Linked DNA regions of Homo sapiens: region 2 is linked to region 1. Evidence: fine-mapped expression QTL. A gene starts in region 1. The other region holds a variant in brackets. All regions are shown on one strand. Distances are from middle to middle. Region 1 holds the start of KLK15 (kallikrein related peptidase 15). Region 2 has its middle 10 kb from the start of SNORD88C.

Region 1 (5,370 bases):
TGGGCCCAGACATGCTTGGGAAGGGGGCACCTGCTCCCACAGACCTGGCCCCCTCCTGGGGCCACCTCACCTGTGGATGCCAGCAGGAAGGAGAGAGTGAGGAGAAGCCACATTGTGGAGGAGGGACCAGGGTTCGGCTGCAGTCTGGGGAGGGAGTGAGAGAATCCAGGTGAGGCAGGACCCTTCTGCCTCCACCAGGATCCCTCCAGACACAGACTTATCCCATCCACTGTTAATAAATTTCTTCTGACCACCGGTATCCCCTTCCCCCAACCCCACTCTGCGCTTCCTTCTGGGTCCCCCATCTCTGGAAGGTTTACTCTTCCTCTAGGCACTCGGACAGACCCTGCCCCACCTCCTCCACCTGTCAGCCTCCAGCACCATGCTACCAGCCCCTGGATCTCTCTCCATCATCACCAAGGACCCCTGTCCCAACTTTTTTTTTTTTTTGAGACGGAGTCTCACTCTGTCACCCAGGCTGGAGTGCAGTGGCACAATGTCGGCTCACTGCAAGCTCCACCTCCCAGGTTCACACCATTCTCCCGCCTCAGCCTCCCGAGTAGCTGGGACTACAGGCGCCCACCACCGTGCCCGGCTAATTTTTTGGAAATTTTTTTTTTTTAAGTAGAGACAGGGTTTCACCGTGTTAGCCAGGATGGCCTCAATCTCTTGACTTCATGATCCACCCACCTCGGCCTCCCAAAGTGCTGGGATTACAGGCATGAGCCACCGCGCCTGGTCTATCTCAACCCTCTTATCTGGCCTTTTGGGTCCCCCTCCAGTCCAGTCCCCTCCACCAGCTTGCCCTCCAGCCATGACCCCAAAGGGTCTTTCTACATCTGGAGCTGGCTGTGCCCCTCCCCTGCTCACCACCCTCCATGGATCCTTGGCACCACCAGGATAAAGTCCAGCTCTTCAAATTCACTTTCTTTCTTTTTTTTTCTTTTTTTTTTTTTTTTTTGAGACGGAGTCTGGCTCTGTAGCCCAGGTTGGAGTGGAGTGGCGTGATCTCCGCTCACTGTAACCTCTGCCTTCTGGGTTCAAGAGATTCTCCTGCCTCAGCCTCCCAAGCAATTGGGATTACAGGTGTGTGCCACCACGCCCAGCTAATTTTTGTAATTTTAGTAGAGACGGAGTTTCACCATGTTGGCCAGGCTGGTCTTGAACTCCTGACCTCTAGTGATCCACCCGCCTCAGCCTCCCAAAGTGCTGGGATTACAGGCATGAGTTGCCTGGCTCCAGCCTCACTTTCAAGGACAAAAGTGGCTTCTTCCCTTCCAGCCCCTCTCCCTGGGTCTCCCATGACCTTGTCCTAGACGCAGCCAGTGCTGCCATTTTCCCTCCTGCCATTTCATGCTTAGGCTATTCCTCCCACCGCATATCCAACGCCATTCCCTTCCAGCCCCGCTTCCTCCTTGAGGCCTTCTCTGACCTCCCCTGACCCTCAGTGGTGTCTGCCTCCCCTACGAGACTGGCAGCTCCCCGAGGAGCTGGTCTGACTCCACTCTGGGTCTCCAGTACTGCAGGGCCCGACCCACGGGAGGCCTCAGGAAGCTTTGAGGGTGAATTGAAATCCTTCTTCCCCATATCTTCCAAATTCATCTTTGTCCTCTGACACTCTGCCCCCACCTCTTCTGGGAGGCCCCAACACCTAACAGGTGTCTCCCCTGAATCCCACAGCACCCATTCTGTCTCCATTACAGCGCAGATGCCCCATACTTGCTGAGGTCTGGCCTGTTCTTTTCTCCATCTGGGGGTCTTGAAGATGGGGCTCAGGTCAGGTTCTTTCTGTGACCTCAGCACTGCCCCACCTGGGGCCTGGTACACAGGAGGCCTCCGGGAGGTTGTGCTGAACTGACTTGAACCCGTGATCACTCCTGACCACGTTCTTGGCTCTGATACAAGTACTTCAGGGACGTCCTCCTGATCCACTCCATCCCCCTCCCTCCCCACCACTGCAGCTCCTTCTGGCCATTCCAGGACATTTTCTTGGTTCAGGTTCAATTTGGGGCATTGGTAAAGGACACGTGGATCTACCCATGCCCTTGACACTCAGTTCTCCAAGCGTGGTCAACGTTTCCCCTTGAAACCAGGGCACAGTGAATCTCCCCTTTGCCCCTCCCTCAGTCTTGTCTCAAAGCTCTCACCTCCTCCAGATCCTCCAGCAGCATCTAGGGCAGCTTGGGTGCCAGAAGGGAGCAGGTACCAGGATGCCTGAATTTATAAGCTCCCAGTCCCAGCTGGGTCTGGGGGTGTGGTGGTGTAGGGTGGGGTGGGAGGTGGCTGAGAGTCAGGTTTACAGGCAGAGACGCCTTGGTTGCTGGTGGGGTGGGAGACTTGGCCTAATGAGCATTTATTAGGTTGAAGCTGTTGTCTGAGTCCACAAAGAGGAATTCTCCACCAGGAGCAGTTCCTCAAGGGGGAGGGGACAGGAGGACAAAAACAGAAATTAGGAGGAGATCAAAAGACAGAGTCTGGAATTTGGGGTCTGGAGTGTGGAAACTGGATCCTAAAGTCCCTGTTCTTGGGCTTGGGGCAGAGTTCTGGATCCCGGGTTCTGGATCCGGATCTGGTTCTGGATCTGGGTCTTGGATTCTGGATTTGAGGATCTTGAGTTGGAGATTAATGACCTGCAGTCTGGAATATGGATTTCAAAGTCTGAGTTCTTGGGCTGGGGGTCTGGAATCTGGATCCTGGAGTCGGGCCTTTGAGTGACAGATCGTGAACCTTGATTCTGGATCCCGGGGCATTCGAATCTAGAACCCACAATAGGAGCCTGGAATCTGGTGTTTGGAATCTGGCAATCGAGGCTGGAAACCTTTGCACCTGCTATGAGAAGCCTGGGGCCTAGACTACAAATGGTAGATTTGGGATTTTGAATTGTGGGGTCTGGATTCTTTTTTTTTTTTTTTCTGAGATGAAGTTTCGCTCTTGTCACCCAGGCTGGAGTGCAATAGCGTGATCTCAGATCACTGCAACCTCCACTTCCTGGGCTCAATAGATTCTCCTGCCTCAGCCTCCTGAGTAGCTGGGATTACAGGCGACCACCACCACGCCCAGCTAATTTTTATATTTTTAGTAGAGACAGGGTTTCACCATGTTGGCCAGGCTGGTGTCGAACTCCTCATCTCAAGTGATCCACCTGACTCAGCCTCCTAAAGTGCTGGGATTACAGGCGTGAGACACCATGCCAGGCTTGGGGTCTGGATTCTACAGGGTGGATCTAGCCTCTGAGCTTTCAGGAGTAGACTTTGGAACATACAGTCTGGAGTTTCAAATCTGTTTTTGCATTGAAAACCTGGACTGTGGCTGGGCCCAGTGACTCATGCCTTTGGGAGGCTGAGGTAGGAGGATTGCTGGAACTGAAGGGTTTGAGACCAGCCTGGGCAACACAGCAATACCTCATCTCTATGAAAAATCTAAATAAATAAATAAATAAGTAAATAAATTTTTAAAAGGCTGAATTGAGAGACAGGGACCTGGCTTTCACGATTCTGAGATTGCTAGAATCTTGACTCTAGAGTCTGAATTTAGAGTCTGGGAACCCAGGGTCTCTATTCTGGTCCTGTAGTCTTATTTCTGGGTTCTAGAGCTTGAAATCTGGATTCTGCATCCCAGAGGCTGGAGATGATCACTGAGATGACCCAAGGCTTTGGGTATTTGAGGCTGGCTTCCAATGTCTCAGAACCCCAGAGGGCCCCAAGCAATTATCTAGAGTCTATTTTGGCTTAATTAATGAGGAGGTCCCAAGACAGGAGGGACTGACCTCACTCAGGTCACCCAGTGAAGGATGGGACCTGTTGTAAGCGTGGTCTCTCCCCATGTGTGGAAAGTCATCATCTTTATGGGAAGGATTCAGCCATTCTAGAACTACAGGCCCCTGGAATTTCTAGAATATCAGACTTTCAGATTCTAAAAGCACAGGCCCTAAGACATTCTGGCAGTGGAGGACACTCTGGAAGGTAAGATTTTAGAATAGCCTAGAACCACAGAGCTCCAAACACTCTAGAACCTTCGAACATCGGGCACTCTGGAGTCCCCAGAAACCTCATGCATTCTAGAACGTCGGGTCTCCAGACATTCTACAAGCCCAGACCGGCAGACATAATAGATCCCCAGGTTGGAAGCTATTCTAGAACTCCTATGTCCCTTTGCCTCCCTCCCCACAAATTGATGCTCAAAGTCTGCGGGCCTCACCCTGGGCCACCGCTTCAGCTGAGCAGCCCTGTTTATGGAATGCGGCTGCAGGCCACTCCTCCGTGCCAAGTGCTCTCTTTGTAGGATCTCACTCCGGCTCCCGGCAGCCCTGTGAGGTGTTTATATTAATAACCTTATGGCTTCCTGCTGAATACGGAGGAAACTGAGGCCCAGACAGGAGGCAGCACAAGCAAGGTTCCTGCAGAAGCGAGAGGCCACGCGGGAGAGGAATCAGTGTTCCGACTCCGGAACGCCCGGTGGGCCCTTTCGCCGCCACCCCTGCAGCCGCCTCCCTCTGTTGGGGCGCGGTGGTGACGAGGGAAAGGAGCCGAGCCCCTGGGACTTCCTCGGTGCCAGGTCTGTGCTGAGCGCTTCCCGTCACGATCGCACGTGCTCCTCCTCCTAACCAGCCTAGGCAGGTACTGATGAAGCACCCCTGATACAGACGGGGACACTGAGGGCGCTCCCGCCGCGCCGAACCCAGGCGCGCACCCGGTCTGCGCTCGGCTCCCTGGAGGGCGCGCAGCCAGCGGCTCCCGCAGCCCCGCCCCCACGCGGTGACGTCGGCGCCCCGTCCCCGCCCACTGTGTCTGGCTCAGGCTCGCGCGATCGATGTCCTCCTGGACGTGTCCGCGGACGTCCTTCACCTCCACCGCGGCCTGGGTCCCGCCCACCGCGGCCTGAGTCTCACTTTTGCCCGGCTCCTCCTCCTGAGAACGTTCCCTGGGAGTTTTTCATCAACTCCCGTGGTTCATCCACCAACCACGCAGGTCTCCTCCATCTGACCCTGAACTCCGGCTTGGGCAGCCACCTGCTCCTGGGCGCCCCCTGCACCACTGTCCCTAGGCCCCTCTCACTTACCGAGTCCCAACTCATTGCTCTATTTCCCCAAACCCTCCTTCCCTGTTCTTCCACGTTCTTCATCTCAGGGGCAGCGTCACCGACCACCCAGTTATTCGGCCAGACGCCCTTGGCACTGACCTTGCCCCATCTCTCCCCTTATCCCCTACAGCCCATCGGTCCCCAGCCTTGTCCCTTCGGCCCCTGCCTCTCTCTGCCCCGTCCCCTCCTCTCTGTCCCCTTGGCCTGGCTCCAGCTCAGACGTCCTCCTCTCTCTCTGGACCCTCGCTCCTCCTGTCCGGGAGGACAGCCTCCTGTCGGTCACCACGTGGC
Region 2 (5,370 bases), 21 kb before region 1:
AGGATGGGTTGGAACAGGGATGGTCTGGTTGGGGGTGGGTTGGGATGGGGATGGGTTGTGGTTGGGGATGAGGATGGGGATGGGTTATGGTTGGAAGTGGATTGTTGTGGGGATAGGTTATGGTTGGGGGTGGGTTGTGGATGGGATGGTTGTGGTTTGGGTTGGTTGTGGTTGGAGTGAATTGTGGTGGGGAAGGGTTGTGGTGGGGATGGGTGGTGGTTGGGGGTAAGTTGTGATGGGAGTGGGTTGTGGATGAGGATAGGTCATGGTTGGGGATGAAAATGGATTGGATATGGGTAAGAGGATGGAGTGGGGAATGGACTAGATTGAGTTTGGCATTGAAGTTCACAGGTGATAGAATTGGGTTGCATTTGAAACATATGTTGAGGATGGTTGGGATGCTGCAAAGTTGGTTGTTGAGATGTTTGAAGAGGTTGCGGATGGTAATGAGGATGGTTTGGTGATTGGAAAGAATGTAGAATTGGGATGGAGTAGGGGCATGAGGGAAAGGGATGTGAATGAGTTTGAGATTTGTTGGTGATGGAGATGGGACTTGAAGTGGAGGCTGGTATTGGGGCTGGAGATAGGGTTGGGCTGGTGGTTGATGTTTTTTATGGGAATGGGTTAGAGATTTGGAAGGAGATGGGGTTGGGATTGCGGATGATGGTCAGGATGGGGATGGGATTGGAGTGTGGTGGGGATGGGATTGGGTTTCATGATTGGCACTGGAGGAGGTACTCCTCGCCTTGGTTCCTGAGGGAAGTGCCATGCCTGTCAGGATGCTGGTGATGAAGGTGAAGAAATCCAGCATGGACGGGTTGGAGCCGGTAAAGAGGATGGTGCTTATTAGGGCTATGCAAAGGCAGAAGCTGGTGATGCTGGAGAAGAGGAGGAAGGCCCAGGAAAGGTCCAGCAAGTCTGGGGAAGGAAGATAATCAGGAACACCATGATTGGCCCAGGCTCTGAGTATGGGGACAAGGGTCACCAGTTGGTGTGGGAGTATTCTCAAAGCTCCTCCCTTGCAAATTATTTATTCTCATTTTAGGAAAATTTAAATTGGGCTCCAGAGAAGAGACATTGAGACTGATACTTCCAGCACTGAGGATCTACCTCTAGGTTGGTGAGGGCAGCTTCTTGGGCAGTGAGAAGTGGGGTGGGCAGTGAGGAGCATTCCCAGAAGTGAGGACCACTCTAGGGCTGTGAGGACAATCCTAGGGCAGTGAGAACCCTCTGAGGCAGTGAGGACCGTCCCAGTCATTGAGGACCATCCGAGAGAGTGAGGACTATCCCAGGGAGTGACGACCATCCCAGGCAGTGAGGACCATCTCAGGCAGGGAGGACCATCCCAGGCAGGGAGGATCATCCCAGGCAGTGAGGACCATCTCAGGCAGGGAAGACCATCCCAGGCAGTGAGGACCATCCCAGGCAGTGAGGACCATCTCAGGCAGGGAGGACCATCTCAGGCAGGGAGGACCATCCCAGGGAGTGAGGACCATCCCAGTCAGTGAGGACCATCCCAGGGAGTGAGGACCATCCCAGGCAGTGAGGACCATCCCAGGGAGTGACGACCATCCCAGGCAGTGAGGACCATCTCAGGCAGGGAGGACCATCCCAGGCAGGGAGGACCATCTCAGGCAGGGAGGACCATCTCAGGCAGGGAGGATCATCTCAGGCAGGGAGGATCATCCCAGGCAGGGAGGATCATCTCAGGCAGGGAGGACCATCCCAGGCAGGGAGGATCATCTCAGGCAGGGAGGACCATCCCAGGCAGGGAGGACCATCCCAGGCAGGGAGGACCATCTCAGGCAGGGAGGGCCGTCCCAGGCAGGGAGGGCCGTCCCAGGCAGTGAGGACCATCTCAGGCAGGGAGGACCATCCCAGGCAGGGAGGACCATCCCAGGGAGTGAGGACCATCCCAGGCAGGGAGGACCATCCCATGGAAGTAAGGGCCATCTCAGGCAATGAGGACCATCCCAGGGTGGTGAGGATAATTCTGGGGCAGTGAGGATTATTCCAGGGCAGTGAGGACCATCCTGGACCAGTGAGTACTATCCCAGGGCAGTGAGAATCATTCGAGAGCAGTGAGGAGTATCCCAGGGCAGTGAGGACTATCCCGGAGCAGTGAGGACCATTCTAGAGCTGTGAGGACTATCCCAGGGCAGTGAGGATTATCCTGGGGCAGTAGGGACTATCCTATGACAATGAGGACCATCCCAGTGCTGTGAGGACCATCCTGGGGCAGTAAGGACCATCTCAGTCAGTGAGGATCATTTCAGTCAGTGAGGATCATCCTGTGGCTGGGAGGACCACCCTGGGGCCGTGAGACTCATAAAATACCTGTGAAGATCATTGCAGG[A/G]AAGGAAGAAACCATTCTGTGACAGGTGGAGGGGTCCCTGGGATAAAGTGGAGCGATGGGTCCCAGGAGTGGTGAGGGCAGGGCAGGCCTTCCAAGCATCCTGGCTGTGCTCATGCAGGCAGGAGATGTCACAGCACTGCTTCTCCTCCCCCAGAAGTCTAGCTCAGAACTTGGCCTCCGGCCTGGGCACTGCCTCATACCTGCCAGAATTGATCTCAATGGAGCTGCACAATGAGAGGTTTTGCATGTTGTCTAGAGGACTTTGGTTGAGTTCAGAGCTGAGCACACTTGCCTTCAGACTCTCCTGGGACTCCCAGGTAACTGATTCAATGCTTTTGATACTGGGCTCGGGGCCGTAGGTAAGTGATGGGAGCACATTGACAATGGCCCAGGCTTGGAAGTTGGGGGTTGGAACACTTAAATGGGCAGTCTCGGTTGTTGACAGGTAGTTTTGGTCATGATCTTTGTTGCTGGGGATAATTGATGATTAGTCAGGGGGTGAGAGCCTTGGATACTGAAGCAGCGAGTTTGGAAAATTGGTGAAGCACCTCGCATACTGAAATCGTGGCTGTAGGTAATGGCTGGTGTTTCTGGGATACTGATCTGTTGACTGCTGATAGCTGGTGTAGGGTCTTGGATACTGACCTGGTGATTGTGAATAATTGGCAAGGGGTCTTGGATACTGACCAGGCGATTGCTGCTGGCTGGTGGAGGCTGTTGGATACTGACCCCGTGACTGTTCCTGGCTGGTGGAGGGTCTTGGATACTGACCCGGGAATTGTAGGTAATTGGCACCACCGTGCCTGGCTAATTTTTTTGTAATTTTAGCACAGATGGGGTTTCACCATGTTGGTCAGGCGGGTCTCGAACTCTTAACCTCAGGTGATCCACCTGCCTCAGCCTCCCAAAGTTCTGGGATTACAGGCATAAGCCACTGCGCCTGGCCCTTATTATTATTTTTTAAGGTATAGAAATCTAGAATTTTTTTTTTTTTTTCTGAGACAAAGTCTGGCTCTATCACCCAGGCTGGAGTGCAGTGGCATGAGATCTCGGCTCACTGCAACCTCCGCCTCCCAGGTTCAAGCCATCCTCTCACCTCTGCCTCCCACGTAGTTGGGACTACAGGGGAGTGCTACTATTCCTAGCTATAATTTTGTATTTTTTGGTAGAGGTAGAGTTTTGCCATGTTTCCCAGGCTGGTCTCGAACTTGTAAGCTCAAGCAATCTGCCCACCCCAGCCTCCCAAAGAGCTGGGATTACAGGCATGAGCCACTGTGCCCAGCCTTAGAATTTTTAGGTAGTTTAATTTCTTCACCTTTGTCTCTGTGACTTTATTAATTGCTTCTTGGCTTCGGGAGGTTCTCCCTCCAGATTTTTGATGAACATTCAGTTCTGTTTTTTTAAATTCTCATTACTTATTTTTAGGTTTTGATTGTGATTTTGGAGTTGGTATGCAGGGAACATTGAATTCTGTGCTCCCTGCTGTCCTAAGGAAGGGACTTGAATTAGTCAGGAGTTTTTGGGTCACAAGTGACACAAACTCTTTTTTTTTAAATTTTTTTTATTTTTTACTTTTTTAAATTTGAGATGGAGTTTCACTCTTTCACCCAGGCTGGAGTGCAGTGGCGTGATCTTGGTTCACTGCAACCTTCACCCCCCGGGTTTGAGCGATTCTCCTGCCTCAGCCTCCGGAGTAGCTGGGATTACAGGCGCCCGCTGCCATGCCCGGCTAACTTTTATCTTTTTAGTAGAGACGGAGTTTCACCATGTTGGCCAGGCTGGTCTCAAACTCCTGACCTCAGGTGATCCACCTGCCTCGGCCTCCCAAAGTGCTGGGATTACAGGTGTGAGCCATCGTGCCCAGCCACAAGTGACACAAACTCTAACTTGAACTAGCTTGAGTGAACTAGTTGTATTAGCTTGAGTGAACTAACTTGAACTAGCTAGGGGATCCTTTATGGGATCACCTGAGTGAAAAATGGTAATGGTAGGAATGCCTTCAGGCATGGGTGGATCCAGGGGCCCAAGTGATAGTATCAGATATTACTGTTTTTTGGCTATGGGATTGGCTTCATTCTCAAGGCTCTGTGTAGTGGCAAGTCAGAATCCAGTAAGGAAAATAAATCATTCCAGATTCTTCAGAAGGAAGTAAATACAGGGAATTTGTTCGTGAGTAACAGAGGAGCTGAGAAGCCAATAGGAAATAGTGAGGCAAACCAGGAGTTAGGAACTACAGGATGCTGCTACTTGGCCAGAAGGACAAAGGGAGGAGGTGGTATTACTACAGTCCAGAAACTGCAGCCCTCTGGAACGCATAGGTTCATGGTTGGATTGCTCAGAAGTGGCTAGAATCAGAGAATAGATACAACTACTACGGAAGACCCACCACATGCAGAGATAGAGAGGCTAATAAATACCCTGGCTTGCCCTCTCCTCCCAGAACCAGTCTTCTGCCAGTGCCTCCCATTAGTCAAACACAGTGATAAGATGGTGAGCAAAGGAGGCTGGGAAATGTGGTCCTTGCAGTGCAGAACAGGACAGGGCGGGAAATGGATCTGAGAGCAGACAGACAAAAAACTGGCAGAGTTGTTAGCAACTTGGCAGAGTTGGTAATAACTGCCGAGTCCGGTAGAAAAAAGTTATCAACAGTTCTTGCAAGAATCCTGTGTGGCTTGGGGCACATGAGCACCCCGAGCCAATTATATGGCCAGTGGAGTACAGTTGGCTGATTGGCTTAAGACTGGGGCTGAGAATGGGGAATGGGCAGGAGGTGAAATGCATGGTGGGGAGGTAAGCTGCAAATATCCACTCATTCTGACCAAATCACAGAGTGGGCTGCTCTCTGGGATGACGAGAGCCAGGGACTTCAGTGTCAGCTCAATGCTCTTTCGCTTGTCTGTTTTCCTTCTTAGTTTTACTCTCCCCATGAAGCTAGGTCCAAGGCTTAGGCAGCTTCAGGCTTGTAATCCTTGAGGAGAGACTGCTTTTCCTTGACAGCTTCCTAATAAAAAGTC

Evidence for each region. PIP is the estimated chance that this variant, and not a neighbour inherited with it, causes the effect.
Region 2: its variant is fine-mapped to the expression of KLK15 in thyroid (GTEx, PIP 0.94).

What each region holds. Positions count from the first base shown.
Region 1 is chr19:50,831,380-50,836,749 of GRCh38, forward strand. It overlaps KLK15 (kallikrein related peptidase 15), which reads right to left and starts at 2,195. Exons shown (of 6, transcript NM_017509.4): 1 at 2,148-2,195; 2 at 71-144. The coding sequence starts at 113. The region is part of intron 2 of LOC105372441 (a long non-coding RNA gene); the gene reads left to right. RefSeq lists a silencer at 4,585-4,844 and an enhancer at 5,005-5,054.
Region 2 is chr19:50,810,212-50,815,581 of GRCh38, forward strand. It overlaps the pseudogene TMEM277P. Among named protein-coding and RNA genes, the nearest start is that of SNORD88C, 10 kb to the left of the region's middle. The variant A/G (reference allele first, on the strand shown) is at 2,357.